2 linked regions of the Homo sapiens genome follow. The protein of the gene in region 1 interacts with the protein of each later gene in a pairwise test. Each region holds a gene or a part of one and is shown on either strand. Other genes may lie near its edges. The genes, in order: ZNF707 and RALBP1.

Region 1 (15,314 bases):
TTCTGGGTGCTCAGGTGCATGACAGCTGGTCTCCCCTCATGGAGTTACCACTGTAACCGGACTCCAGGCTTCCACCATCGGCCCTCGAATTTTACATAGGATGGTTGGCCCCGGGAAAAGGAGCCTCTGAAGTTTTAAAATCCAATATGGCTCCAACATTAAGCTCACACTGGGGACCAGCTCAAAACCCACCCATTTCACATTCCCCAAAACGTTTCGTTTGGTGGGCCTGTGATTTAGCTCCCAAGAGGTCACAGATACAAACACAACGAAGCGAGCTATTAGGGCTGGACATGCACTCAGTGACGCAGCTGTCCCTCCACCCTGGCCCGGGTCAGGTTCTGCCAACTCCACACGCACACTCTTCGTTTGAAGGGTCCCAATGGGTTTGAGGACCTGTAAGACTGGTACGCACGGCGGACCCCATGAACACCCAGAACAACAGTGAGTAGAGTTTATGATACGTTGTAACTAGAATGACCCCAAATATCTTTATTTACTTGGCATTGTACTTCCCAAAGAAGAATATTGCAGCCACTGGGCCTCCCTTCAGAGTGCAGAGAGGCAGCTCCAGGAGCTGAGCCTGCTGGGATGCAACTCCTCCTCCTAGCACCATGGACTCCTTCATCTTTCAGTCAAGGCTGCCAGTGGCTACCACGTGGCCCTCCCATTCCTGGAGCTCTCAGCTGCATCCGCCACCTGCTCTCTCGACGGACTTTTTTTTTTTTGAGATGGAGTCTCACTCTGTCGCCCAGGCTGGAGTGCAGTGGCACGATCTTGGCTCACTACAACCTCCGCCTCCCAGGTTCAAGCAATTCTCCTGCCTCAGACTCCTGAGAAGCTGGGATTACAGGCGGCAGCTACCATGCCCTGCTAATCTTGGTGGACTTTACACTGGACACATGTGTGCTGAGCGCTAACACAAAGGCCAGGCAAGTGTCCCCTGGAGACAGAGGGGTGGAAGGCTAGGTCACAGGCATGGCTGTCAACGGACCCTGCTGTGCACCCATTCTGGCCGCGAAGTAGCTTCATGCATTCTCTGCCCAAGATAAATGCAGAGAAAACTCGGCTCTACAGGCTCACAGGGAGTGACGGCTGCTGGCCCCAGGAAGGAAGATGCTCCTTACGGGACACCTGCTGTGAGCCCCTTCTGTCACCCCACCCCCGCCTGGGTGGTGAGGAGGCCAACAGGGCAAGATGCAGAGCCTCCCGGCCCCTCACACCCCCATGGGCTCCTCACCACCATTCTCTCCCCAGGCCTTTTCTGTGGACCTGACCTTCTTCAGCGACCCAGGAGGCAGGAAGGGAAGCCTGAGTGTTAGAAGGAAAGACAACTAAGAGCAGCAGCCTGACCGCAGCTGAGCACGGTCGTGCTCCTCCCTGGGGAAGTGCCAAGGGAGGGACCCCCTGCTCTACCCGGAGCCCTGGAGCCCTGCTAAGCAGGGTGGAAAGCCTGCAGCCCGGGGGGTACCGCGACTGTGGCCCAACCATCCAGTGTGTGAGCCCTGGATGATGAGGCCACCAAGAGCAAGGCAGCCCGCTTGGACAACTGACCATCATCTGACGAGGCAGCGCATCACCCACGTCTCTGCTGTTCACATTTAATCCTGCACAAGAGCGTCACAAAGTGACAGCATTGTGAGGGACTAACGACCAGGCACAGGTGACCCTGGACGCGGCCAGTGGCTTCCTGCAGGGCGCTCAAAACCCAAGTCCTTATGATCCGCCGCATCTACTGCCGAGACACCAGCTGCTCCGTCCCCACCTGTGCTCAAGCACCTGAAGGCCCTTCCAACGGCGCCCGCTGGGCAGGGGACAAACCAGACACGAAACACACATGCGCTTTTACCAGCCTGGACTCTGTAAGAGAAAGGCACCCCCATATCCCCCCTGGGGAGATTTCCACTTATCCTGCAGGGCCCTCACTGCCTCACCGGGCTCTGCCAGGGCCTGCCCCGCAGGGGCAAGTGCTTTTCCTACACAGGGTCTGTGGGCCAGGACAGACCCAGAGGAGCTTCTGCTACGGGCTGAATGGTCACTCTGAAATTCCCATGTGGAAGCCCTAGGCCCGACGTGATGGTATGAGGAGGTCTCTGGGAGGTGATTTGGCTTCGATGGGGTGATAGGGGTCATGGGATCCGGGCCCTCACAAGGAAAAGGTGACACCAAAGCCCCTCCTGACATGAGGATGCCTCTGAACCAGGAGGCGCTCGCCGGAAACGGACCCTGTTGGCACCTCTACCTCGGACTTCCAGCCTGCAGAGCTGGAGAGAATAAACCTGTGTTGTCTGTGGGGCTGCCGGTGGTGTCCTGGTAAGGCAGCCCTGTGACTCCATGACCGACAGCTGCTCTCTACAATCTTCCGTGAGCACGAAGAAACTCATACTCATGCTGCAAATAAAAGATTTGGGGAACTTTTAAGCACACCAACCTCCCGGCTTCAACAGCTGTCAACATTCAGCCAATACTGTTGTGTCTTTCTCCTCTTTATTAGAATCGTAAAGTACATCCCAGGCGCCACGTCATTTCCCCACAAAGACGTCCAAATGCATCTGAGTGAGGATTCCTCCGTAACCCTGTGTCACCATCACCGCTAGCAGCCAATTCCGCACCCCCACCCGACTCACGGCCCACCCACCCGACTCACGGCCCACCCACGCAACTCACGGCCCACCACGCAACTCACGGCCACCCACCCGACTCACAGCCCACCCACCCGACTCACGGCCACCCACACGACTCAGTCCATCCACCCGACTCACGGCCCACCCACCCGACTCAGTCCATCCACCCGACTCACGGCCCACCCACCCGACTCAGTCCATCCACCCGACTCACGGCCCACCCACCCGACTCAGTCCATCCACCCGACTCACGGCCCACCCACCCGACTCAGTCCATCCACCCGACTCACGGCCCACCCACCCGACTCAGTCCATCCACCCGACTCACGGCCCACCCACCCGACTCAGTCCATCCACCCGACTCACGGCCCACCCACCCGACTCAGTCCATCCACCCGACTCACGGCCTACCCACCCGACTCACGGCCCGTGCCCACATTTCCATGATTGTCTCAAAAGTGACTTCGCACTCGGTTTGCTCCTACCAGGGTCACACACAGCCCCCTCGGCCTTTCTGCGTGCCCGTCTTCCCACAGAAACGTCGCCGTCTGGTGGCATCTCCAGCCGGATCTGGCTCAGGGCTTCCTCTCGGTGTGTTCAACCTTCTCCTCATCCCCCTATTTCTTGTAAACTCGTTTCTGATTCCAACATTACATATGCATCTGTTGGCTGGAATTTTTTTTTTGAGACGGAGTTTCACTCTTACTGCCCAGGCTGGAGTGCAATGGCGCAACCTTGGCTCACCACAACCTCCACCTCCCGGATTCAAACGATTCTCCTGCCTCAGCCTCCCGAGTAGCTGGGATTTCAGGCGTGAGCCACCACGCCTGGCCTGGCTGCAATTCTTAAAGAAAAACAGGCAAAAGCAAAAATAATTGGCTAACCTGAAACACGGCAGTGTCCCGACCCATTCCCACGGGGGTCTTCCCTTGGGAACACCACTGGCAGATTTTTATTTCTGGCTGGATAAGCAGACACCTTAAGTTTAAAACAAAGAGGTCACCTCTTCCCCCACGAAATGCGATGTGGTGGATATGGCCACCTCACTGCCCTGAGACCCAACTTGATCTCCCAACTCCAGGTGCATGACCCAGGCTCTGACCAACAGAGCTGGGTGGAGGCCGTTCCTGCAGCACTGGGGGTGGCCCTGACCTAACCACCACTCCTAATCCTTGAATGAGGTTCAGTATTACAAAGGCTCTTGTTTCTACGGCCCAGCGCAGAGGCTGCAGGAGGGTCTTTGCCTCTGTGCAATGCTCACAGCTGCCTCGCCCAAGACAGAGACAAGAAGGGAAGCCAGACCGGGCAGCCAGCATGGGGTGCAGAGCCAGGAAGGAAAGGCCCAGCAGACGGCGACTCGGGGCCAGGGTGGAGTCCCTGAGCCAGACGGCTGTGGGCACCAGGCAGGCTTCTCCGCCTCTGAGCCCGGCCTGGCACGTGGCTCCGGGGTCGCGCACACTCTCAGCACATCCCCAGGATGCCCGGCGCCGGGGCGCAGCCCCCGCCATCTCCAGAGCCCCCGCCATCTCCGGCGTACCCATGGCTCTGCTTCTCCCACCTGGCAGTTTTCCCAGTAAACTTCTCGGGGGACTGGGGAGCTCTGAGGACTAAGAAGGCTTCTCTGAATTCAGGTTGATTTTCCAGGCTGAAGAGCAACTTCTCACTGCAGCTCTCCCTCAGGACCCAGTACTCCCGCAGAGGCGCAGCACCCCACTCTTCGGGCGCCCCTACACCTCCCCGTGCCTGTGAGTCCTCTGATGCCGCGTGAAGAACCCCAGGTGACGGAAGCCTTTCCCACAGTGGCCGCACTCGTAGAACCTCTTCGTCAGGTGCAGCCTCCGGTGGATGCTGAAGCCCTTGGGCCACCGGAAGGACTTGCCGCACTCGGCACAGGTGTAGGGCTTCTCCCCGCTGTGGACCCTCTGGTGGTGGCTGAGGTTCTCCTTGGTCCGGAAGGCTTTGCCGCAGTCCGCGCAGTAGAACGGCCGCTCCCCGGTGTGCACCAGCTGGTGTCTGAGAAGGTTGGACTTCTGCTTGAAGGCTTTCCCACAGTCGCCACACGAGTAGGGCCTGTGCTCGGTGTGGACCTTGCGGTGCTGAGCCAGGCGGTCCTTCAGGCTGAACGCCTGCCCGCAGGCCTCGCAGCAGAAGGGCTTCTCGCGCGTGTGGTTCTTCTGGTGGCGCTGCAGGTTTGAAGCCCACCGGAAGGTCTGGCCGCACTCGGGGCACTCGAAGGCCTTGGTTCCCGTGTGCACCGTCTGGTGAGCGAGCAGCCGGCTGTGGCAGCTGAGCGCCTTCCCGCACGTGCCGCAGATGAATGACAGCTCTACTGCGCGCTGCTTCCGGCGCTCTCTGCGGCCCGGCCGCCGCCCACAACGCTGCGTGAGCACCTGACACGGGAAAGCCGTGGGCTTGGCGTCTGTCCTTTCTGGAGCAGCTCTGGGAAGCTGCCCGTCATCCGTGTCCAGCCTGAAGCCCTTCCTAAAGCTGCTTCCTTCCCTGGCTCTTTCTCGCCGCACGTGGGTTTTCTTGTGAGCCCAAGCTGGATGATCACAAGGTCTCTTGGGGTCTGCAGACTTCCTTGCCCCTGTGGAAGGAACAGACACCCTTACACAGAGCCAGTGGCCCACAGCCAGGCAGTGCCTCCAGCAAAGCCCAGAGGAGGCCGGGCGCGGTGGCTCACGCCTGTAATCCCAGCACTTTGGGAGGCCGAGGCGGGTGGATCATGAGGTCAGGAGATCGAGACCATCCTGGCTAACAAGGTGAAACCCCGTCTCTACTAAAAAAAAAAAAATACAAAAAATTAGCCGGGCGCAGTGGCGGGCGCCTGTGGTCCCAGCTACTCGGGAGGCTGAGGCAGGAGAATGGCGTGAACCCGGGAAGCGGAGCTTGCAGTGAGCCGAGATTGCGCCACTGCAGTCCGCAGTCCAGCCTGGGCGACAGAGCGAGACTCCGTCTCAAAAAAAAAAAAAAAGCCCAGAGGACCCTCCTGCTGTGTGCGTGGACTGGCTTCCATTGACTCAGCTCATTCCACATGGTTACGAGTGATCAGGAAAACTCGTTCAAAGAAACACAGATGAGCCACAGGTATCAACAGCGGAAGCCAAGATGAGCTCAGATGCTTCCCCAGCCCCGGTGGTACGCAGGCCACCCGGCACTGCTGACGTGAGGGAGAGCCGACACATGCCTGCCAACCAACAGAAGCAACTGGGCCAAGAGAATGTCCTTTCACCCTGTCCACGCCAGCAGGCCCCACTCATGCGGGTGGAGGTGGTGCTAGGATGTCGTCTAGAAGACGGGTAGCTCCACCTGATTCTCAACCACTCAGCCTCAGAGCCATGGCTCCCTTCAGCCGGGGGCTCCACACACCCGGGGATGCGACACCTCCCCAGCCGGGGGCTCCACACACCCGGGGATGCGACACCTCCCCAGCCGGGGGCTCCACACACCCGGGGATGCGACACCTCCCCAGCCGGGGGCTCCACACACCCGGGGATGCGACACCTCCCCAGCCGGGGGCTCCACACACCCGGGGATCCGACACCTCCCCAGCCGGGGGCTCCACACACCCGGGGATGCGACACCTCCCCAGCCGGGGGCTCCACACACCCGGGGATCCGACACCTCCCCAGCCGGGGGCTCCACACACCCGGGGATCCGACACCTCCCCAGCCGGGGGCTCCACACACCCGGGGATGCAACACCTCCCCAGCCGGGGGCTCCACACACCCGGGGATCCGACACCTCCCCAGCCGGGGGCTCCACACACCCGGGGATCCGACACCTCCCCAGCCGGGGGCTCCACACACCCGGGGATCCGACACCTCCCCAGCCGGGGGCTCCACACACCCGGGGACCTGACACTCCAGAGTCAGGGGCTCCACACACCCAGGGACCTGACACTCCACAGTCGGGGGCTCCACACACCTAGGAACCTGACACTCCACAGTCGGGGACTCCACATACCCGGGGACCTCCCAGGGCTCGTGTTCACATAGCTGCTCCATCCCACTCTGAAAATGTAAGTAAAAAGCAAAACCCTGCTGACAACTGCCCCAAGAGCAACCCTCACCTAATGGAGGGAAGCATGGCCACTGTCCCAGTTTTGCAAACAAGGACGTGGAGCAAACTCCTACCCAGAGCCACATACCTGGAGACCCTCACGTGCAGTCAGTACCAGGCCTGGGACCCCACATGGCCATCACAGGGAGGTCAGACACCCACACCAATGGCCTCCGCCGGACAGCACCTGGGTGGCTAGGTGCAGGCTTCAAGTGTCACTCCAGCCTCAGGCCCCTCCGAGCTGCAGCTGTATGTCATCCTGCAGCACTATGCCTTTCGAGCCCCACCCCCGGCCAGTGTCCATCAGGGCAGGAGCGTGGCTGCCCCTACGTCTCTAATGCCTGTCTAATTTAGAGAGCAGCTGTGTGTCTGCTCTCCCATGGGAAGGACACACCCTTGGTCACTGCAGCGTGCTGAGCACTACCCAGGAGCTGTGGGCCACAGGGACGGGGCCCGCCGAGCCCAGACAGCCCAGCACTCACCTGGCCGGGGTCCCCTCTGCACTGCCTGGAACTCAGGTCTCTCCCGGTCTTCAACCCACGGCTCCTCCCACTGTTCCAGGCGAGAGACGAGGTCTGGTCTGGGGCTGCAAAATCCTTCTCAAAGGAGAGAAAAGTTTCTGTTTTACTTGTACTGAGGACAAAGTGAGGGTCGAGGCTCAGAGCAGTTGTGCATCAGCCTAAGACGCCAGGCCAGCCCTCGGGAGGCCCTGGAGAAGCCACCCCAAAGCAGAGATGACAGGAAGGGAGGGGCCTGGACACCAAGGCCCACGGAAGGCCCTGGCAAGGTCAGAGGAAGGAAGATGAGGCTGCCTCCAGGGAGCCCGAGAGAAACGCTGAGTGGGCCCCTCTGTCTACATAAGCCAATAACTTCTAGCTCCTGAGCCCCCTCAGCTGGGAGGCCCCACTACTGTCCTGGACGAGCTGGGCCCAGAGGCAGCGGCAGAGCTCTCCCAGCACTCACCCTGTGCTCACGCTGCGCTCAGCCCGTGCTCACCCAGAGCAGCCACACTGCTGAAGTTGTCCAGCATCACGTCCCGGTAGAGGGCCCTCTGGCTGGGTTCCAGACACGCCCACTCCTCCCTTGAGAAGTAGATGGCCACGTCCCTGAAGGTCACTGGCTCCTGCAACACACACAGCTCCCGAAGAGGCCATTCCCAAGAAAAAGAAGGCTCAGCCCACAGGTCTGGGTGGGAAGGGGGAATGGGAGTGGCCCTGCGGTGGACTGATTGTTTGTGTCCCCTAAATCCATTCACTGAAGCCCAGAGCCCCGAGTGGCTGTGTCTGGAGATGGGCCTCTGTGGAAGAGATTAAGGTTAAGTGAGGTCAGAAGGGAGGGGCCCTGACCCATGGACCTGGTCCTCACAGGAGACTCCAGAGAGCCCCCCGGCTCCCTCCCCGCACACGCGTGAACACAGCACAATAGTGGCCCCCACCAGAAACCAGATCTGCAGCATCTGATCTTGGACGTCAGCCTTTGGAACAGAGGAAGTGCATGTGTGTAAACCACCCACTGTGTCATGTTTGGTTACGGTAGCTCTAGTGGACTAAGAGAATCTAGTCTACTTTCCTACAACAGCCACTACTCTCCTAGTGTCAATGAATCCAATTTTCTTTTCTTTTTTTTTTTCTTTTTTGAGACGGAGTCTTGCTCTGTCACCAGGCTGGAGTGGTGGCACGATCTTGGCTCACTGCAACCTCCGCCTCCCAGGTTCAAGCAATTCTCCTGCCTCAGCCTCCCGAGTAGCTGGGCCTACAGGTGCGTGCCCAGCTAATTTTTTGTATTTTTAGTAGAGATGGGGTTTCACCGTGTTAGCCAGGATGGTCTTGATCTCCTGACCTCGAGATCCACCTGCCTCAGCCTCCCAAAGTGCTAGGATTACAGGCGTGAGGCATTGCGCCTGGCCCCAATTTTCTTTTTCTTTCCCCACCCCTTAAGAGAGAAGGCAGAAAGGCAGACACGGGCACAGTGCCTGGGAAGCCACTGCCACAGACCCTCCCCGCGTGTGTGCTGGGGTCTCAGGCAGCCAGCAGGGCAGAAGGGAGGCTGCGCTCGGCAGCAGCAGGGCTCACCTGGGCCATGTCCATGGGAACAGCGAGGCCACCCCTCTGGGGAAGCACAGTGCCAAGGAGGGCAGATCTGGGGAGACAAGAAATGTAAGCGGGTATAGCCGGCCTGGGAATGCCCCCCGCACCTGACCCCAGGAGCCCCCCCACTCAGCAAATCACGGGGAATTCAGGAAAAATGAGTGATGCACACACAGGGTCTGCTCTGTAACTACTGACAGCCACCAGGTGTGGGGAAACTTGGCAGTGGTGAGGGGCCAACATATCTTTAAGGGACAGCTGGGTACAGTGTGCCACCTCCACAAACAAGAACTCTGAAATACCAGACAGCAAGCCAGGCCTGTCACCAGAGGAGGACAGGCCAGCCATTGCTGGCTGAAAGCCAACAGCTTAGCTGCAAACACATGACTGGAGAGTCTAACCGCAACTGAGGCAGCGGAGGCTCCTCCTCAGGAGACAGGCGGGCAGCCCGTTCCCACAGCACTGTGCCAGGAGGATGCTCTCGGGTACGCTACAAGGAGGCCACCTCGCAGCCTTCCCCCAAGTGAAAACCTGGTGCAGCCCCGAGAAACCCCAATAATGTTCACTGAGTCTCCAGATCAAGCCACAAGATCCCCTAAACCTTAGGGCCCCAGCCCGCTGAGATCCAGCTTCTACCCCCAGGTCTGTAGAGAACCACCCTGGCATCCCACTGCCCTCCTGCCACAGTGGGTCCTGCCTCCTTCGTGAGTAAAGCTCAGAGCCCCAAGATGCAGAAGAGGCCAGCCCCACAGGCACCCCTGAGAAGAGACAGAACCAGCTGGAGGAAGATAGCCCATGCCTGGTTACCTCGTCAGGGGAGGGGAGGAGATGTCACTCTAGACCCTACAGACATGGAAGTATCCTAAAGGGCCGTCAGGAGCAACTCATGCAAACAGGTTCAGCAACTGAGATGAAACAGACAAACTCGATGAAAAACACAGTATCATGAAACTGACAAAAGAAAGGGAAGCCTTCCATCTGATAAGGCAATTGAAAATGTAACTGGAACCCTTCCCACACAGAAAATACCACACCCAGCTGGATTCCCTGGTAAACTCCACCAAAGCCTACGGAAGCACAGTACTGATCTTAGAAGCTATTTAGTGAACAGAGGAAGAGCAGACGCTATCCAGTCTGTCTTAATGAGGCCAGCAAAACCCAAACCGAAAACCTGACAGAGATATTACAAGGGGCCAAGCACAGTGGCTCACGCCTGTAATCCTAACACCCTAGGAGGCTGAGGCAGGAGGACTGTTCGAGCCCAGCAGTTGCCCAGCCTGTCTCTATAAACAATACAATAATTAGCGGGGCGTGGCAGTGCACATATGCAGTCCCAGCTACTCAGGAGGCTGAGGTGGGGGGACTGCTTGAATATGGGAGGCGGAGGTTGCAGTGAGCTGAGATCATGCCAGTGCACTCCAGCCTGGATGTTAGACTGAGACGCTGTCTGAAAAAAAAAAAAAAAAAAAAAAAGATATTACAAAAAAATTACCTACCAAACTCTCATAAACACAAATTCTCAAAAAATATTAGGAAGCCAAATCCAGCAGTTTATAAAAAGAATTCTCTGTCATGACCAAGTGACATGGACCCTAAGAGTACACAGCTGGTTTGATCCCCATTAACTGCAGTTGGTGCCCAGGAGGCTCCCTCCACCACCTGCACTCAACACTCACTGCATGGGGCGGCTCCCTCGGCGTTCACCCCTGACCCCTCGTCCCTCCCACCTCCAGCACAGCAGGTACACAGACATTCCCTTTCTCCTTCTGACACTCACAGGTGGTTACATTAACTGCTACATGTTTTCATGAATATGCTTTTCAACTTGATATTTTTTTTTCACTCTTTCAACAGCATAGCATCAACTTTAATCACAATGTTAATCCCCAACATTTGCTGTCATTTGAAAATGACATAACTCCATCCTGGCTAACACGGTGAAACCCCATCTCTACTAAAAAACAAAAAATTAGCCGGGCGTGGTGGCACGAGCCTGCAGTCCCAGCTACTCGGGAAGTTGAGGCAGGAGAATGGCACGAACCCGGGAGGCAGAGCTTGCAGTGAGCCGAGATCACGCCACTGTACTCCAGCCTGGGCAACAGAGTGAGACTCCATCTCAAAAAAAAAAAAAAAAAAAAGAAAATGATATAACTAACCAAATTAACAGAATAAAGGAGAAAACCATATAACAGCTATTATCTCAATAGCTGCAGAAAAGGCATTTGTTAAAATTCAACACCTAATCCCAACAAAAACTCTCAGCAAACAAGGAACAGAAGAGAACTTCTTCAACCCGGCAGACCTGCAACCAACATCCTGCTTCATGGGCCACTACGGAGCTCTTTCCCTCTGAGACCAGGAAAAAGCAGGGCTGTCTGCCCACTGCTTCTCTCTGTCACCTTATTGGAGGCCTGAGTCAGTGCAAGGAGGTAGAAAAAACACATAAAGCCATAAGATTACAAAGAAAGAAGTAGGTCGGGCGTGGTGGCTCATGCCTAGAATCCCAGCACTTTGGGAGGCTGAGGCGGGTGGATCACCTGAGGTGGGGAGTTTGAGACCAGTCTGGCCAATATGGCAAAACCCTGTCTCTACTAAAAATACAAAAATTAGCCAGGCATGGTGGCAGGCACCTGTCATCCCAGCTACTTGGGAAGCTGAGGCAGGAGAATCGCTTGAACCCGGGAGGTGGAAGTTGCTGTGAGCCAAGATCGCACCCCTGCAGTCCGGCCTGGGGAACAAGAGCAAAACTCCGTCTTAAAAACAAAAACAAAAACAAACAAACAAAAAACACAAACTGGAGGTAGAGGTTGTAGTGAGCCAAGATTGTGCCACTGCACTCCAGCCTGGGTGACACAGAGAGACCATCTTCACAACATTGGGGTAGACAAACATTTCTTTCATGGATCCCTAAAAGCACTTTTAAAAAATTACAAATTCAGGCCGGATGCAGTGGCTCACGCCTGTAATCCCAGCACTTTGGGAGGCCGAGGTGGGCGGATCACCTGAGGTACGGAGTTTGAGACCAGCCTGGCCAACATGGAGAAACCCCATCTCTACTAAAAATACAAAATTAGCCAGGCGTGGTGGCACTTGCCTGTCATCCCAGCTGCTCAGGAGGCTGGGGCAGGAGATTCACTTGAACCCAGGAGGCAGAAGTTGCGGCGAGCCGATATCGCGCCATTGCACTCCAGCCTGGGCAACAAAAGCAAAGCTCCGTCTCAAAAAAAAAAAAAAATCACAAATTGGATTTATCAGAATTAAAAATTTTTGTTTACCAAGGCAGTTAAGAAAAAAAAAAAAGGAGACGGGGTGCAGTGGCTCACGCCTGTAATCCCAGCACTTTGGGAGGCTAAGGCAGGGGGATTGCTTGAGGCCAGGAGTTTGAGACCAGCCTGGGCAACATAGGGAGACCTCTGTCTCTATTGTTTAAATTTTTTTTTCTAAAAAGAGACACAAAGGTAAGCCACAGACTAAGAGAAAATATTCCCAATACATGTATCTGACAAAGGACTTATATAAAGAATTGTAACTCCTACAAATCAATAAAAAAGAGAAATAAAATTTAAACTGGGCAAAATATTAGAACAGACACTTCAACCAAAGTTATACAACGGTCTATAAAAACATGAAAAGGCACACTGAGCACATGGGTCATGGGTGGTGTTTTCCAATTAGAACACCTTGCTGAGTTCCTCTAGCAAGTAGCAATGACCACAGTGATAAAAATAACAGCTCCCGGCCATTCGCGGTGGTTCACGCCTGTAATCCCAGCACTTGGGGAGGCCGAGGCAGGTGGATCACCTGAGGTCAGAAGTTCGAGACCAGCCTGGCCAACATGGTGAAACCCCATCTCTACTACAAATGCAAAAAATTAGCCAGGCTACTTGGGAGGCTGAAGCAGGAGAACTGCTTGAACCCGGGAGGCGGAGGTTGCAGTGAGCCGAGATTATGCCACTGCACTTCAGCCTGGGAGACAGAGCGAGACGATCTCAAAAAAAACAAAAACAAAAACAAAAAAAAAACACCCTCTCCCCTCAGCTCAACAGCTGTGTTTGCACAACCTGGACTGGGCTTCCCAGCCTGGAAAGCAGAGTCAGGGAGAACCGTGAGATAGGCCAGGAAAGGGGCTAAAGCCAGATTCCTCAAGGCCTCCTGAGCCGTGGTTTCATGTGTAATGCAACAAAGTTTAATACGGGAGAACAGAAGGATATTGTCATAGCTACTTTTTTTCCCCTAGGCAAATTAACACAGGATTTTTTTTTCTCTGAGGCAGGTCCTTGCTCTGTCACCCAGGCTGGAATGCAGTAGTGCAATCACAGCTCACTGCAGCCTCGACCTCCTGGGCTCAAGTGATCCTCCCACCTCAGTCTCCCCAGTAGCTGGGACCAAAAGCGCATGTGCCAACATGCCCTGCAATTGTTTTAAGTTTTTTGCAGAAACGGGGTCTCACTATGTTGCCAAGACTGATCTCAAACTCCTGGCCTCAAGAGATCCTCTGGCCTCAGCCTCCCCAAGTGCTGGGGTTACAGGCGTCAGCCACAGCATCCGGCCTAAGCTACCTTTTTTTTTTTTTTTTTTTTAATAAGATGATGTCTCGCTCTGTCGCCCAGGCTGGAGTGCAGTGGCGCGATCTCTGCTCACTGCAACCTCTGCCTCTTGGGTTCAAACGATTCTCTTGCCTCAGCCTCCCCAGAGTAACTGGGATTACAGGCGTGCACCACCACACCCGGCTAATTTTTGTATTTTTTGTAGAGACAAGGTTTCAACATGCTGACCAAGCTGGTCTAGAACTCCTGGACTCAAGTGATCCACCTGCCTCGGCCTCCCAAGAGCTGAGATTACAGGCGGGAGCCACCTTGCCTGGCTAAGCTACATTTTATAAAAGATCCTCTGTGATGAACAAATGAGAAAGCAGCAAAACAGGATGGGGGTGGGGAGAAGACAGGGAGGCGTTCAGGTGAGAGAGGAAGACGGCCAGGATTGGGACTTACAGGGTGGGAATGGCAAGGAGGCAAATGGTTCAGTTATGGAGCTAACGCACCAGTGACTGTGTGGCTGGGCGTGGGCAGGAAAGGAGAAGAAGCGAATCTCGGGTTTCTGCCTCCTCCCCTTCGCGGTGGAATGCCTGGGAGGACCAGAGGGTGGGGTGTGGAGGTTGCAGGAGCTCAGCCTGGGGCCGGGGAGCTTTGGGTGTTATGAATCAAGTCTAAGCGCTCGGGTCTCATCGGAGCGATAGGGCTGGAGACACAGGTGTGGAAAGTGTCTATGAGGGATAACTAAGGTCACGATCGCGGACGGGGTCGGCCAGGAAGAAACCAGCTTCAAGAGGATACGCAACCGGGTCCTGACAAACCTGCAAGTGTAAGGAGCGAGGAGAGAAGAGGAGGCCGAGCCGGAAGAAGCTGAAGAACAGCCCCCGAATAGCCGAGGGCACGGGCAGCCTCCCCGGTCTGTCCCAGCAGCCGCGACGCTGGGTCTCACAGCCCTGGGGCGGCCGCAGAATTAGAAGGTTTGACAGCCCACGACCCAGGGACGGAGGGGCGGCGGGGGACACGGGCGCACTCACCACAGGGGCGTCCTCCACTAGGATGCTGCATCCACTACGCCGCGCCGGTAGCCCAGACTTTTACAAACTTCCCGAGCGGAAGTTGTTATCCGAAAGCTTCCGGCCCCTCTAGGAGCCCACGTCTCGGTGGTGCGCGCTGGCCTTCCAGGCCGTCCAGGCCGCCCGCCTCGCCCCGCACCGCTTGTGGTTCCGCCGCAGCCGGCAGGCCCCGCCCCGGTCACAGCCAAGCGCCACGACGCCCGGCTGATTTTTTTGTAATTTTAGTAGAGACGGGGGTTTCATCATGTTGGTCAGGCTGGTTTTGAACTCCTGACCTCAGGTGATCCGCCTGACTTGGCCTCCCAAAGTGCTGGGGTTACAGGCGTGAACCACCGATCCCGGCCCTCATAACCTAAAGTCGGCCTAAAGGTTTATCCTACAAAGTGAACTGTAACCTAACTGGAGGTGTGAACAGACTGTCACTTGCTCTCCTGCCAGTCACCCAGTTCCAGCCAATCAAGGGTGTAGGGTCCAGCCCTGCGGGGCTAAGCGGGTGTTGTCCCCGTGTGCGGAGATGAGAGATTGTAATAAATAAAGACACAAGACAAAGAGATAAAGAGAAAACAGCTGGGCCCGGGCGACCACTACCATCAAGACGCAGAGACCGGTAGTGGCCCCAAACGGCTGGGCGCGCTGATATTTATTGCATACAAGACAAGGGGCCAGGGTAAGGAGGGTGAATCTTCTAAGTGATTGACAAGGTGAAGCAAGTCACATGATTACAGGACAGGGGGCCCTTCCCTCTTAGGTAGCGGAAGCAGAGAGAGAAGGCAGCATAAGTTAGCATTAATCAAAGACTTTAAGACTTTCACTATTTCTTCTACCGCTATCGACTACGAACTTCAAAGAGGAACCAGGAGTACAGGAGGAACACGAAAGTGGACAAGGAGCGTGAACATTGAAGCACCACAGGGAGGGGTTTAGGCCTCCGGATGA
Region 2 (15,314 bases), on another chromosome or scaffold:
ACCACCCGCCCCAAATTGAGTCCATCCCTTTGGCAGCAAAGCTGCTAGTTTTCTTGGCTATTCCTACCCACACTGGCAAAACTGCAGTTCTGGTGCAACAGGGTGGGAGAGAAGCAGCCTCAGGCCAGAAGGCCACAGACATCTACTGTCCCTGCTAGCTGTTTCTGAAGAATAGATGTTTCTCAAATTGTTTTCTGTATTTGTTTGATTTCCAGTGCTCTGAAATGGTTGTTTTTGCCAATTTATCCAATTTTATACTGGTTTTGTGTGCAGAGAATTGCTGACTATGCCACACAGACATAGCTAAAAGTCCCTTCCACAGTTTTTTACGTAGGAACCTGTATTAGTTAGGACCTTTCAGAGTCATGTAAAAGAAATTCAACTGAATTAGTTAGGACTTTTAGAATTTTAATATGAACTGGCTTAAACAGTACAGGAAATTTGTGGTTCACAATTCTGGATAGTCTGTAAGATGGCCTTGCTCACAATCCCGAATAGTCTATAGGATAGTCCATAGAATCAAACAGGTGAGGTTTGATACTGCAGCTCAAATCATGCCACCAAACACAAGGTTCTTCTCCATCTTTCCCGCATTCATTTGACAGTACTGACTTCAACCCCAGGCTCTACTTGTTGCTGTCCCTCTAAACTCCCATCCCTCTAGGGTTTCCCCTTATAGGAGGAAAACGGTTGCCACATTTCCAGGCATCATATACTTACACCATGCTAGAGGAGCAAGGAAGCTACAGTTTACTGGAAGCCTCAGCCCCAGTCTTTGTGGGTTCATTGTTTCTGACTGGGCTTGTGACCATCTCTGCTGCTAGAGGGAATGGTTATGTTGCCTGGCTTAAATGGAAGGAATAAATGCTCAAGTGGCAGCCAACAAATACATTCAATATCCACACATATTGGCTCCAAATAATAAATCAATGAATGAGTGGGCTCACCCACTTAGGCTCACATGCTCACAGCACTTAAAGAGCTCCACAAACCATGCCCTCCAAATGAAACCACGGTCTACATTCTGCCAGCTCTTTCTCCCTTTCCATTTCTCCTTTCTTCTCTTTCACACCCTCACCTTTGGCTAGGCCACTCGATGTTGCAAGAAACACGTCCATCAGCAATTGCCTCAGTAGAAAACTCCCTCTGCTCCCCTCCTGCATCCACATAGCAGCTTCAGGCAAGGCCTCCATAAGGCCCAGCGTGGATCAGTGCCTGCCCCTTGGCCGAATCAGTGCTGTCACAGGCAGAGAATTGTCACTGCCATGCTCACCTGCCCAACCCAGTGGTCAGAGAAGACTGTTCTACTGCGAGAGGAGCCATGAGAAGGCTTTTCCGAAAGTCAAAGACCAATGGCTACCTCAGACCATCCCGTATCCACTCGTGGGAGGCCCCTGAATGAATCTAAGGCCCCAGGGGTTGAACTTTACTGAGTAGGGAGCGCAGAGTACTAGGGACAAATTTACCGCCCGCTTTGAGGAAAGCTGATGTGGGAGCAGAGAGCAAGATGGATAGCAGCGGCCAATCTAAACGGGCAACGAAGTGCCACAGAGTGCTGCACGTAGGAATGCGAGTGACAGGTAGGGTCGTCTATTCCAAGTCCCTCCTCTCCCCTAATAAACTGCCACATTTCAGAAAACACGAAGACTGCTGAAGCCGTTTCCAGCCTTCGCTACGCATTAGCAGAGCAACTCAACAAGCCTGGGTGAAAGGCTTCTCGAAGAAATTCAGTTATCTCTACTGCCAGCCAAACACGGACTGGGCAGCTTTCCTCGGGGGCTGCTCGGTAACTGCTGAGCCGGGGGCGCGCTGAAGCCCTGCAGAAGCCCACACCCGCTTCAGGAATTCCGTGGATGTTCCCGACAGAGGTTTATTCCCGCCTATCCCTACAGGCCCACGGCGCTCTTTCCTCCAATCCCACACCCAGTCGAAGGCGGGGCAGCCGCCCCACCCAGCGGCCAGCCGGGCGGCCCCCAGTCTGGTTTAACTGGTTGGAACGACTAAAGCACGCTGGCGCAAGGAAAGCTCTCAACTTCGGGAGCTGAGGCGCAGGCTGGCCAGAGCGTGGAGAGGAAAGCCCTTTCCATCCTCAAGGCCGTTGCAGGAGATGCCCGCGAGCCACCTTCGCCAGCACCACACCGGGGTAAGCCGTCCGTCCCCGAAACCCGCAAGGCCACCGACTGCGCAGGCGCCTGCAGAGCACTGGCCCTCGGCGCGTTCTCTCGCGCTCTTCTTCAGTCTCCTCAGCGAGCCTGGGGACGAAGGGGGCGCGGTGCCTCCTGGGTGTTGTAGTTTGCTTCCTTGGCGAGAGGCCTTCGGGCTGGCTGGACGCCGGGGCCTTGGGAACTACGCCTCCCAGCGCGCCCCGCGCGAGAGCCCAGGTCGCCTGCCCTTGACGGCTTCAGCCGTCTGAGCGGAGAGGAGGATCCGGGAAGCCGGCTGCGGCGGGAGGAGGGAATGCGCGTGCGCGCTGGACCGCCTCGTCCCGTTCCGTCCCAATCATTGTAAACAGGCAGAGGCTGGGCGGGGTGGGAATGGGGCGCCCGAGGCCGGCCTGGGGCGCAGCGCAGGAGGCGGCTCCGGTGGCTGCGGCGGCAGCGTGAGCGCGAGGAGGCGGAGGCTGCGGCGGGGCGGACGGTCGCGCGGCGGCAGGCACAGGTCAGTCGCAGGGAGCGGTCGCGTGCTAGGGTCGCGGCGATACCCCTGGAGTGCCCGAGGAACCCTCTCCCGCGCCGGCCTCGCGCCCGCGTCTGTCAGGCAGCGTGTGGGGCTCGGTGCTCGCAGCGCTCGGGTTTGAAGTTGGGGGTGGGGGGCGTGGCTGCCCCTGGCGTGGGTTCCTCCCCGGAAAGCTTCGCCCCAGTTTTCGCCCCCCTTGGCCGTGCGTCCCTCCCACTGGCCGACGGGCCTCCCTTCGTGGCGTCCTCGTTTGTGGTGCTCTCGGGGGCCGGGGGTGGAGAGTTAGGAGTCCCCAGGCCTCGGGGAAGCTCTTGGGGGGCGCCTGGACAGAGGCTAGGGGACCCAGCCCTCACGGTTGGTGGATCGTGCCCGGCATAGTGGCCAGGCTCCAGGGCTTACCCAGGGGACCAGGACAGGCTCCTGGTGTCGCCCACCGCTGGCACTGAGCAGTGGGCGCCTTTGGGTGCTGCGATCCTTCCTTCAGGTTTCAGTGGGAATGGACAGACAGATCTGAAGTTGAAAATTCTTTTCACAACTCATGTTCAACTATGTGTGTTGTCAGAATGCTCTTAATGAGGTCAGTGTTCTCCCTCTTTTTTTTAAAACTGATCGTTGTGAGAGTGAAACAGGTTTTACAGAATATTTAACACCTCCGTCTTCCCTGAAGTAATTCTGCTGTTTCAAGTTTTGGGATTCAGTATTACAAAGCCTTCCTCTTGAGCAAGGCCTAGTACAATTCTTCAAGGTCCCTAGCATGTTAATTCGAGGTGTTTTGAACGTGCATATACAGGAAGTGCAGCCGTTTGGCCGTTGAGTTAGTGCTCCATCCAGCCTTGTTAGAAAAGCTTTCGCTGAATTTTTAATTTAGTGGAGTGGTCATGTTCTAATGCTGCAGTACTTTGGGGAGTATTCCATTATACTTGGCAGTTATTAACGAAATACTGAACTTGTGATAAGGTTTTGTTTTGGTGCTCAGCATTTCTAAATGAATAAGTGGGACTGTGAATAAGAAAGATCACCTCACTTTCTGTTTTTAGAGTTATTGTGGTCATTTGATAACTCCTTTCTGTCTTTGTGAAAATAATTACTGTAAGCTGGAGTGGCGGTAGTAGGGGTAGGAAGGAGGTCAGTAGAGTGGTTTCCACCTCTCATTCAAAGTATCTGGTAGATCCAAGTGGGGTAGGTTAGTTAACAGTAGCTTTTTTTTTTTTTTTTTAGTTTTTTATTTTTTGAGACAGAGTTTCGCTCTTGTTGCCCAGGTTGGAGTGCAATGGCATGATCTCAGCTCACCACAGCCTCTGCCTCCTGGGTTCAAACGATTCTGCTGCCTCAGCCTCCTGAGGGGATTACAGGCATGCGCCATCACGCCCGGCTAATTTTATATTTTTAGTAGAGACATTTTCTCCATGTTGGTCAGGCTGGTCTTGAACTCCCGACCTCAGGTGATCTGCCCGCCTAGGCCTCCCAAAGCGCTGGGATTACAGGCGTGTGCCACCGCGCCCTGCCAACAGTAGTAGCTTTTGAGAAGTGACTCTTTAAACAAGGTATCTCGAAACAATGTAATACAACTTAGTTTGCTTTCTCTTCAGGATATTGTTTCTAATTATGGATCTTATCCAGACTATTTCTCCCCTAATTTAGAATAGGAAAGTGGTATCAGAAAGTGCATAATAACTTTAATTTGTACAGTTATATTTGCATAGTTGTTTGCTTGGCAAGAAGAGATCGGGCCCAGCATGTAACCCAAAAGAATATTGTTTCTGTTTTGAAAGATCCCTGATAGAAACTTATGTTAGTTTGTATAAGAGGGTACAAGGAAAAATGCAGATTATTTAGAATACAGGAATTACTATGTAGAAAGTACTGTGACCAGGTGAAGAGGACTTAAAGATACAGAAGGCAGTGTTCCTGCCTTCAGGGTAGTTGAACCTTATCTCTTACTTTAACTGTCAACAAGTACAAGATTGTTTTGATTGAAGAACATATGCGGGTACAGTGGATGTACAAAGGAGATAGTGGTCAGTTTCTTAAAGTGAAGAAAAGAGCTGAAGAAGAGGGAAACTGTAAGGAAAAACTATGTAGAAGGTGATGAAAATCAGGAGTGTACAGGCATAGAAAGAATGGGCATTTAGGTAGAAGGAGCAGTGTGAGAAAAAGCATGGGAGTCTAAAATTAGAGAGTAGCATCTGCAAAAATAGCAAGTATAATACAGGGTGGTGGCAAGACCTGAAACTGGGGAGATAGGCAGAGACCAAATTATGGATCTTGCAGACCATCAGAATAATTACAATTTTATTTTATAAGCAAATAGGAGTCATTGAGAGGACAAAGAAGAGACCTAAGCCAGCTCAGCCCATTTTTAACCCTCTGCTATAGGTCAGGCACTGTATTAGGTACTGTATATTTTATGTCCTTAAGCTTAAAGAAGGCTTAGTCATGACTAATGCAGAAATTGGGGGGCTAGGGCAGGGATGGGGAAGGAACTTTTAGAGGGAAAGGTGGGCAGAAACGTAGGTGAGAAAGAACATGGAACACTTTTTTTTTTCCCAATACAGACACCATCACTCAGTTTTATTGGTTTTGTCTTATTAGCCTCTGAAGTAGGCAATTATTGGTGTGAACATACATTTTGAAAAACATCTGGAGTCAAGAGTGCACGAGTGTCAACTCAGTGCAAGTACTGTTGGTAAGCATTATGTCCCGAGGATGAAATCGGAGGACCAACAGGCCCAGGAGGCTTCACAGCGAACACCACATGCCTCGCGCCCAAAAGGACAGCAGACCGCGCTTCAGAACGGAACCGCCTTCTCCATGTAAACTTTTGACGTAAACTGTGTGCTTCAGGGTGGCCTCTTCTTCTCCGAGATCCTCTCCTGCGTCCCGAGTTTGGGAATGGCCCGGCCGTGCTCAGGCCCAGGCGGTGGAGGCCTCGGTGTAGTAGTGCCGTGCTTGTCGACGTTCCCAGGAGTCCGGGTTCAGAAGCCCCCTCTCCGGTGGATTGGCAGCTTCGCGGTAGCTGGGCTAGTCTTCCTCTGGAAACTCAGTAAAAAGAGTCGGCGCTGTCCGCCTGAGCGCGGGTTTCCTACCGAGCTAGAGGCCAGCCTGCCTCAGGCGCAGAAGGGTTTGCCGCCGGCCTTGGTCAGGGCGAGCAGCTCCCTGGTGGCGCCCAGAGCTGGGGTGTCCTGGGGCGCGGCAGGCGGAAAGGCACGCGCGGGCCAGGGGTGCAGTCAGCACAGAATATGGAAGAGAATGGGAAGTTGTTTTCTGTAGCTGTAGCATTAGTTGTGGTGATAAGTAGCAGAAGATGAGGTTGCAGGTATCCTCAAAAGTATTGCGTGCCATTCCAAGGACCTTACCATTTTTTCCTGTAGATAACAATAGGGTTTATGTATTTTAATGAACAGAGAGACATGATAAGATTTTTCTTTTTATTTTTTTTTTACTTTTTTGAGATAAGGTCTCACTGTGTCACCCAGGCTGAAATGAAGTGGCACTCACCGCACTCCGTCATGGCTCACTGCAGCCTCGACCTCCCAGGCTCCAGCGATCCTCCCACCTCAGCCTCACGAGTAGCTGGGACCACAGGTGAACGCCACCACACCTGGCTAATTTTTTGGTATTTTTTTTTTTGTAGAGATGGAGTTTTGCTGTGTTGCCCAGGCTGGTCTTAAACTTTGAGCTCAGGCAGTCCACCCTCCTCGGCCTCCTAAAGTGCTGGGATTACACGTGTAAGCCACCATGTCCGGCCAAGATTTTTATTTTAGAAAGATCATTCTGGAATTGTAGAGTAAGGATTTCAGAAGGGATGGAGAGAAGGTAAGAATGGATGTAGAAAGACTGTTTAGGAGGTTTTTGCACTAATCGAAGTGAGAAATAAGGGTCCAAACTAAGGCAATGTTAGAGGGGTTATGGAGGAGGAGGGTAATAGAAATATTTAGAAAGTAGAATTCATAGGATTCAGCAACAATTGGATATGGGGAGTGAGGGAAAAATAATAGAATAAGATGACTTGGATTTTAACTTGGGTGATTGAAGAGACAATGGTAAAATATACTGAGATGGGGAATTCAGGAAGAGAAGCACATTTGAGGAGAAACAGTATTTTAGCTTCAGAACATATTGAGTGGAAGTTATCTGTGAAACATCCAGGTGGAATCATCTGCTATGGAACTGTGAATGTGGATTTGGAGTACAGTATAACAGGCTATATTATGAGTGGTATCTGAATTCTTTGATTTAGATAACACCAAATAAGAAGAGTTTGTTAACATAAAATAGTTCTGGAAATAGGCTGTGGAGAACATTTAAAGCCAGATAGAAGAAGAGCTGGGAAAGGAAATTCCTAAGTGTTTGGAGATGTAGAGAAATCATGAGAAAATGTCATAGAAGCCAAAGTGGGATCTGGCACCATCACAGCTCACTACAACCTCCGCCTCCTGGGCTCAAGCCATCCTCCTACCTCAGCCACTCAAGTAGCTGGGACTGCAGACACATACCACCACACCTGGCTAATTTTTGTATTTTTGGTAGGGATGGGGTTTTGCCATGTTGCCCAGGCTGGTCTTGAACTCCTGGGCTCAAGCGATCTGCCTGCCTTGGCCTCTCAAGTGCTAGGATTACAGGTGTGAGCCACTGCATTGGGCTGGGATCATTTTTAAAGGAAGTTATACTTCACAATCAACTCTCAAGAAAAAATAGAAATTAATTTTTTTTTTTAAAAAAGGAAAGCCTCAGGCACAGTGGCTCACACCTGTCCTCCCAGCACTTTGGGAAGCTGAGGTGGGAGGATTGCTTGAGCCAAAGAGTTTGAGACCAGCCTGGGAAACATAGGGAGACTGGTGTCTCTGCAAAAAAAAAGCAATTAGCTGGCTGTGGTGGTGCACACCTGTGGTCCCAGCTACTCAGGAGGCTGAGGTGGGATGATCGCTTGATCCTGGGAGGTTGCGGCTGCAGTGAGCTGTGATTGTGCCACTGCATTGCAGCATGGGTGACAGAGTGGGACCCTGGCCTAAACAAAAGGAAAGCCATACTTTAAATGCTTTGAAAAGTTGAGCGAAAGAAGTTATTAAGAGTCTATTGATTTGGTATTGAGGAGGTTATTCAATTTGATAACTGTGTGAGAACAGTTTTGATAGAATGGTTGGGGGACGAGGTAGGTTTCATTGAGTTGAGGAGTTGAGGTTAGAGAGTGGAAAAGCATATGTAGATTATAATAAATAAATCAATTTTAGCCATGAAGGGGAGAATAGAAAGAGGTGGTAGCAGAGGGTGATAAAGGGTTAACAGATTTTTAACATGGCAAAGACTTGAACCTGCTTTTCTTTTTTAAAACAGCTTTATTGAAATATAATTCACGTATCCATAAAATTCACTCCTTTAAATTATACAATTCATTGGTATGTAGCATGTAGTTATTCATTGGTCTGTGTGACTTAATTTTTTTTTTTTTTTTTTGAGACAGAGTCACACTCTGTCACCCATGCTGGAGTGCAGTGGTGCAGCCACAGCTTATTGCAGCTTGACTTCCCAGGCTCAGATAGATGATCCTCCGACTTCAGCCTCCTGAGTAGCTGAGACTACGGGTGTGTGCCACTATGCCTGGCTAATTTTTTGTATTTTTTTTGTGGAGACGGGGTTTTGCCATATTGCCCAGGCTGGTCTCAAACTCCTGGGCTCAAGTGATCCACCTCTCTCGGCTTCCCAAAGTGCTGGGCTCAATGAGCCACCACGCGCAGTCTCATTGGTTTTTAGTACAGATGCTTCTCTACTTTTCTCTACTTACGACACAGTTACATCCTGATAAACCTATAGCAATTCGAAAATATTGTAAGTGGAAAATGCATTTAATGCACCTAACATCATAGCTTAGCCTCGCCTACTGTAAACATGCTCAGAACACTTACATTAGCCTACAAAATCCTCTAACACAAAGTTTATTTTATAATAAAGTGTGGAATATCTCATGTAATTTATTGCATACTGAAAGTGAAAAACAGAATGATTTTATGGATACCATGTAAAGTTGAAAAATCCCAAGTTGAAACATTGTATGTTGGGGACAGTCTGTATATACAGAGTTGTACAGCCATCACCACAGTCAATTTTAGAACATTTTCATTACTCCCCCAAAAAAACCTCCCCATTAGCAGTAGTCACTCACTATTTCCCCTGCCCTCATTAATCTACTTCTGTATCTCTTGATATTTCAGATATTCTGGATATTTCATATAAATGAAACCATATATATCATCTTTTGCAACTGCTTTCCCTCACTTAATGTTTTCAGGGTTCATCCATATTGTAGGATATATTAGCACTTCATATTTTTTATTGCAAAACAGTACTCTCTTATCTGGATATACCACATTTCATTTATCCATTTATCAGTTGAACATCTAAGTCGTTTCTCCTTCTTGACTATTCTGAATAATGCTGGTGTGAATATTCATGTACAAGTTTTTGTGCGGGCATACGTTTTCATTTCTTGTGTATATACCTAGGAGTAGAATTGCTGGGTGTGATGTTATACAATAAGAAATATATATTTGGTCTTGGTCTGGTTCCTAGCCTAGAACTTCAAAGATCCTTGGAACTCCCTGAGTAATAGAGGTAATAGAGCATATTTTGGAATTCATAATAAGTCTCTCAGTCACATCTGAATTTATGCTAATAAAGTGATTCTTGGTAGGCCCCTAGACAACTTCAGGATGGAAGCTGGTTGCCAGAAGAACCAACTGTGTTGATTAGAGAGTTGGAACTTGCAGCCCCACCCCTGGATGGGTGAGGGGGTGGTGGTGAGGACTGGGTATTGAGATCAGTTATCAGTGGCCAGTGATGTAATCAATCATGCCTGTGAAATGGGACCTCCATAAAATCTTCTAAACAGTGGTTTTCAGAGAGATTCTGGGTTGGTGAATGCATCCTTATGCTGGGAAGGTGTTGCTTCAACTTCATGGGACAGAAACTCCTATACTTGGAACCCATCTCGGCCTCACCCTTGTGCCTTTTGATTTGGTGGTTTATTTATATCCTTTATAATAAACTGATAGGCATAAGTAAAGTGTTTCCCTGAGTTTCGGTGAGCCATTCTTGCAAATTATTGAACATGAGGAGGGGGTTGTGGGAACCCCTATTTATAGCTATTTGGTCAGAAGTACAGGTGGCAATGTGCAGCTTGTGGCTGGTAACTGAAGTGAGGGTAGTCTTGTGGAACTAAGCCTGTGGAGTCTGACATAAACTCTGGGCAGTTAGTGTCAGAATTGAATTATAGGGCACTCAGTTGGTGTCTGGAAAGTTGGAGAACTGTATTGGTATGGAAAAACACTTCCACATGTGGTGTCAGAAGTGTTGTTAGAAAACAGCTCATGTGGTAACTCTTGTTGAACAGTTTGAGGAACTGCCAAATTGTTTCCCAAAGCGACTGCACCATTTTATAATCCAATTCTCCAATTTCTCTACATCTTTGCCAATACTTGCCATTTGCTTTTTTAAATTTTAGCTATCTTGGGGTGAAGTGGTATCATGTTGAGGGTTAGATTTTCATTTCCCTGGTGGCTAAGATGTTGAACATCTTTTCATGTGCTCATTGGCCATTTGTATATTCTCTTTGTGGAAATATCTACTGAAATCCTTTGTCCATTTTTGAATTGTATTGTTGGTTATTGAAAGAGTTCTTTGTATGTTTGGTTACTAAATGTTTATCAGATATATGATTTACAAATACTTCTGTTTTCTGGGTTGTCTTTTCACTTTCTTGATAATATACTTTTGATGCATTAAAAGTTTAAATTTTACAGTATAATTTATCTGTTTTTTTTTGTTTGTTTGTTACACAGGCTTTTGGTGTCATGTCTACATTGCCAAATCCAAGGAATGAAGATTTATTCCATACTTTCTTCTAAGAGTTCTGTGGTTTTAGTTCTTATATTCAGTTGTTGGTCCACATTTTTATATGGTGTGAGATAGGGGTCCACGTTTTTTTGTTTTGTTTTGTTTTTGAGACAGAGTCTCACTCTGTCGCTCAGGCTGGAATGCAGTGGCACAATCTCAGGTTACTGCAATCTCTGCCTCCCAGGTTCAAGCAATTCTCATGCTTTGGCCTCCCGAGTAGCTGGGATTACAGGCGAGCGCTACCACGCCCGGCCAATTTTTGTATTTTTACTAGAGATGGGGTTTCACCACATTGGCCAGGCTGGCCTCAAACTCCTGGCCTCAAGTGATCCACCCACCTTGGCCTCCCAAAGTGCTGGGATTACAGGCGTGAGCCACTGCGCCCTGCCAGAGGGGGTCCACTTTTTTGCATGTGGTACTCTAGTTGTCCCATCCTCATGTGTTGAAGAGACCATTATTTCCTGATTGAGTGGTCCTGATATCCTTGTTGAAAAATCAGTTGACCACAAATGTCTGGGTTTTTTCCCCTGGACTCTTTGTTTGATTCTCATGGTTGATATAGCTATCCTTATGCCAGGTACCATGTGCTGTTTTGATTACTGTGGCTTTGTAGTACATTTTGAAATTGAGATGTGTGAATTCTTCGACTTTGCTGTTTCCAGTATTTGTTGGCTCTTCAGGGTCCCTTGCAATTCCATATGAAACTGAGGATCCATTTCTGTAAAAAAGGCCATTGGAATTTTAATAGAGATTGCATTGAATTTGTAAAACATTTTGGGTAGTATTTCTGTTTTAAAAATATTAAGTCCTCCAATCCATTAACAATAGGATGTCTTTTCACTTATTTAGTTTGTCTTTAATTTCTTGCACAATATTTGTAGTTATCAGTGTCAAGTCTTTCACTTCCCTGGTTAAATTTATTTCTATTTTTTTTTTAGGTGCTGTTGCAAATGAAATTGTTTTTTAAATTTGTTTTTCAATTTGTTTTTCACAATTGTTTTTCACAATTGCCTAGTGTTTAGATATACAACTTATTTTCTGTCACCTTATATCGTGTGACTTTGCTGAACTCCTTATTAGTTCCCATAGTTTTCTAGTGTATTCTTTTGAGTTTTGTATATAAGATCATGCTGTCTGTAAACAGAGATAGTTTTACCTCTTCTTTTCCTATATGGGTATCTTTTATTTATTTATTTTTCATTCCTAATTGCCCAGGCTAGAACTTCCCATACAATGCTAAATGAAAGTGGCAATAACAGACTTCCCTGTCTTGTTCCTTATCTTAGGAGGAAAGCTTCCAGTCTTTTACCATTTAGTATAATGTTAACTGTGGGTTTTTCTTTCTTTTCTTATTTTTTTTGAGACACGGTCTCATTCTGTCACCCAGGCTGGAGTGCAGTGGTACAATCATGGCTCACTGCAGCCTTGACCTCCCAGGCTCACGTGATACTCCCACTTCAGCCTCCTGAGTAGCTGGGTCTACAGGCATGAGCCACTATGCCTGGCTAATTTTTGTATGCTTTGTAGAGACAGGGTCTCCCTATGTTGCCCAGGCTGGTCTGGAGCTCCTGGGCTCAAGCTTCTGCTTCAGCCTCTCAAAATGCTGGGATTATAGGCATGAGCCACCATGCCTGGCAACTGTGGGTTTTTCATTGATACACTGTATCAGTTTAAGGATGTTCCTTATGTTCCCAGTTTGTTGAGTACTTTGTTGAGTGTTTGTCAAGTGTGTTGCTTAATTATCTACATATTTTTGAAGTTTTCAACATTTTGTCTGTTATCGATTTTCAGTTTCATTTCATTGTGATCAGAGAACATACTTTGTATGATTTTAGTCTTTTAAAGTTTATTGAGGCATCTTTTATTGCCTAACATATGATCTGTCCTGAGACTGTTCCATGTGCACTTGAGATGGATTCGTATTACATTGTCTTTGGGTGGGGTGTTCTATAGATGTCTGATAGATCTAGTTGCTTTATAGTGTTGTTCAAGTCTTCTTTTTCATTGTTGATCTTTTCTCTAGTCTATCCATTATTGAAAGTGAAGTATTGGGAGTCTCCGTTTATCATTGAACTGCCTCTTCGCCTCTCACTTCTGTCAGTTTTTGTTTTGTATCTTTTGGAGGCTCTGTTGTTATGTGCAGTGTATGTTTACAATTGTTGTATCTTGTTGATGGATTTACCCATTTATCATTATATGATATTTAAGAGATAGTCTTCATTGTTTGGTATTAGCATAGACTTTCTTTTATTTTTATTTTTTTTGAGACAGAGTCTTGCTCTGTTGCCCAGGCTGGAGTGCAGTGGCACGATCTCGGCTCACTGCAACCTCTGTCTCCCAGGTTCAAGCGATCCTCCAGCTTCAGCCCCCGTAGTAGCTGGGACTACAGGCATGTACCACCATGCCCGGCTGATTTTTGTATTTTTAGTAGAGACAGAGTTTTGCCGTGTTGGCCAGGCTGGTCTCCAACTCCTGAACTCAGGTGATCCACCCGCCTCAGTCTCCCAAAGTGCTGGGATTACAGACATGAGCCACCGCACCCGGCCTAACATAGACTTTCTAGTTCCCTTTTGGTTACTGTTTGCATGAAATCTCTTTTTCTTTCTTTCTCTTCCTTCCTTCCTTCCTTCCTTCCTTCCTTCCTTCCTTCCTTCCTTCCTTCCTCCCTCCCTCCCTCCCTCCCTCCCTCCCTTCCTTCCTCCCTTCCTCCCTTCCTCGTCTCGCTCTGTCACCAGGCTGGAGTGCAGTAGTAGCACGATCTTGGCTCAGTGCAATCTCCGCCTCCCGGGTGCAAGCAATTTTCCTGCCTCAGTCTCCTGAATAGCTGGGAGTACAGGCTCGCGCCACCACGCCTGGCTAATTTTTGTATTTTTAGTAGAGACAGGGTTTCACCATGTTGGCCAGGATGGTCTCCATCTCTTGACCTTGTAATCCACCCACCTTGGCCTCCCAAAGTGCTGGGATTACAGGTGTGAGCTACTGTGCCCAGCCTGGAATATCTTTTTCTATCTTTTTACTTTCAGCTTATTTCTGTCTTTGAATCTAAAGTGAGTCTCTGTAGACAGGCTACGATTGCATCTTGTTGTTTTTTAAATCTGTCTGCCAATAACTATCTTTTAATTGAGGAGTTTGATTTATTTACATATTACTGATAAGAAAGAACTTCTGCCATATTGCTATTTGTTTTTGATACATCTTTTTTGTTCCTCAATTCTTCCATTGCTGCCTCCTTTTGTGTTAAATACATACTTTTCATTGTACCATTTTAATTCCTTTATGTTTCATTTGTTATATATTTTCGTAGTAGTTGACCTGGGATTACAATTAACATCTTAATTTGTAACAATCTAGTTCAGATTAATATCAACTTAATTTTAATAGTGTAGAAAACTTTACTCCTATGTAGTCCTACCCCCTTTATGCTGTTATTGTCACAATTACATCTTTATACATTGTATGCTCATCAACACTGATTTACAGTGATTGCTTTATGCAGTTATTTAACTCAGATAGGAGAAAGAAGAAATACAAACAAAAATACATTTATACTCTTTTTAATATTTACCTACATACTTTTTTTTTTTTTTTTTTTTGCGACAAGGTCTTGCTGTCTTGCCCACACTGGAGTGCAGTGGCATGATCCTGGCTCACTGCAGCCTTGACCTTCTGGGCTCAAGTGATCCACTTTGGCCTCTGAAACTGTTGGGATTATAGGCATGAGCCATCATGCCCGACTGTAATTACCTTTACCAGTGTTCTTTATTCATGTGGATTTGAGTATCGTCTAGTTAGTGTTTTTTCAAAGCAGCATGATGGACTCCCTTTAGCGTATTTTTTTTAACAGGATAGGTCTACTAGCAGTGAGTTCTCTTAGTTTTTCTTAATCTAGGAATATCTTTTCTTTTTCTTTTTTTTTTTTGAGACAGAGTCTCATCGCTCTGTTGCCCAGGCTGGAGTGCAGTGGCGTGATCTCAGCTCACTGCAACCTCCACTTCATGGGCTTAAGTGATCTTCCCACTTCATCCTTCTGAGTAGCTGGGACCACAGGTGTGCACCACCACACCCAGCTGTTTTTTTTTTTCTTTTTTTGTATTTTTTGTAGAGATGGGATTTTGCCATGTTGCTGAGGCTGGTCTCGAACTTCTGGGCTCAAGTGATCTGCCTGCCTCAGCCTCCCGTATATCTCTTATGTTCTGTTTTAAGGGATTCTGTATTCTTTCTTTTTTTTTCCTGATCCTCAGACTGACCTATTTCAATTAACCTATCTTCATGTTCACTGTTTCTTTGTTCTGCCTGCCCAAATAAGCTGTTGAGCCCTTCTAGTGAACTTTTCATCTAAGTTATTATACTTTTCAATTCTATAATTTCTATTAGATTTTTTAAAAAATTCTCTTTATCAATACTCTCTTTTTGGTGAAACAGAGTTATCTTGCTTTCCTTCAGTTTTTAAGACATGGTTTCCTTTAGCTTTAGAACATACTTAAAATAGCTGATTTAAAGTTCTTATGTAGTCAGTCTAGTCAGTGTCTGGGCATCCTTAGGGACAGTTTCTTTTTTCTATTTTTGTGAGGCAGAGTCTCACTCTGTAGCCCAGGCTGGAATCCAGTGGCGCAATCTTGGCTCACTGCAACCTCCGCCTCCCGGGTTCAAGCAATTTTCTTTCCCATCTTGGCCTTCCAAAGTACTGGGATTACAGGCGTGAGCCACCGTGCCTGGCCTGGAACAGTTTCTGTGATTGCTTTTTTTTT

Evidence for each region.
Region 2: the proteins of ZNF707 (region 1) and RALBP1 interact in binary tests that used the Homo sapiens proteins (3 or more experiments, as listed by UniProt).

What each region holds. Positions count from the first base shown.
Region 1 is NC_000008.11:143,683,568-143,698,881, reverse strand, and holds ZNF707 (zinc finger protein 707), read right to left. Parts: upstream 14,404-15,314; 5' UTR 14,340-14,403; intron 11,966-14,339; exon of another isoform or gene 11,868-11,965; intron 11,502-11,867; exon of another isoform or gene 11,404-11,501; intron 10,889-11,403; exon of another isoform or gene 10,815-10,888; intron 10,221-10,814; exon of another isoform or gene 9,679-10,220; 5' UTR 9,581-9,678; intron 8,826-9,580; 5' UTR 8,774-8,825; coding exon 8,759-8,773; intron 7,984-8,758; exon of another isoform or gene 7,810-7,983; coding exon 7,683-7,809; exon of another isoform or gene 7,650-7,682; intron 7,286-7,649; exon of another isoform or gene 7,283-7,285; coding exon 7,169-7,282; intron 6,638-7,168; exon of another isoform or gene 6,589-6,637; coding exon of another isoform or gene 6,552-6,588; intron 5,212-6,551; coding exon 4,352-5,211; 3' UTR 3,497-4,351; downstream 1-3,496. UniProt on the Homo sapiens protein: May be involved in transcriptional regulation.
Region 2 is NC_000018.10:9,473,034-9,488,347, forward strand, and holds the start of RALBP1 (ralA-binding protein 1), read left to right. Parts: upstream 1-2,479; 5' UTR 2,480-2,658; intron 2,659-2,661; exon of another isoform or gene 2,662-3,253; intron 3,254-5,231; exon of another isoform or gene 5,232-5,489; intron 5,490-15,314. UniProt on the Homo sapiens protein: Multifunctional protein that functions as a downstream effector of RALA and RALB. As a GTPase-activating protein/GAP can inactivate CDC42 and RAC1 by stimulating their GTPase activity.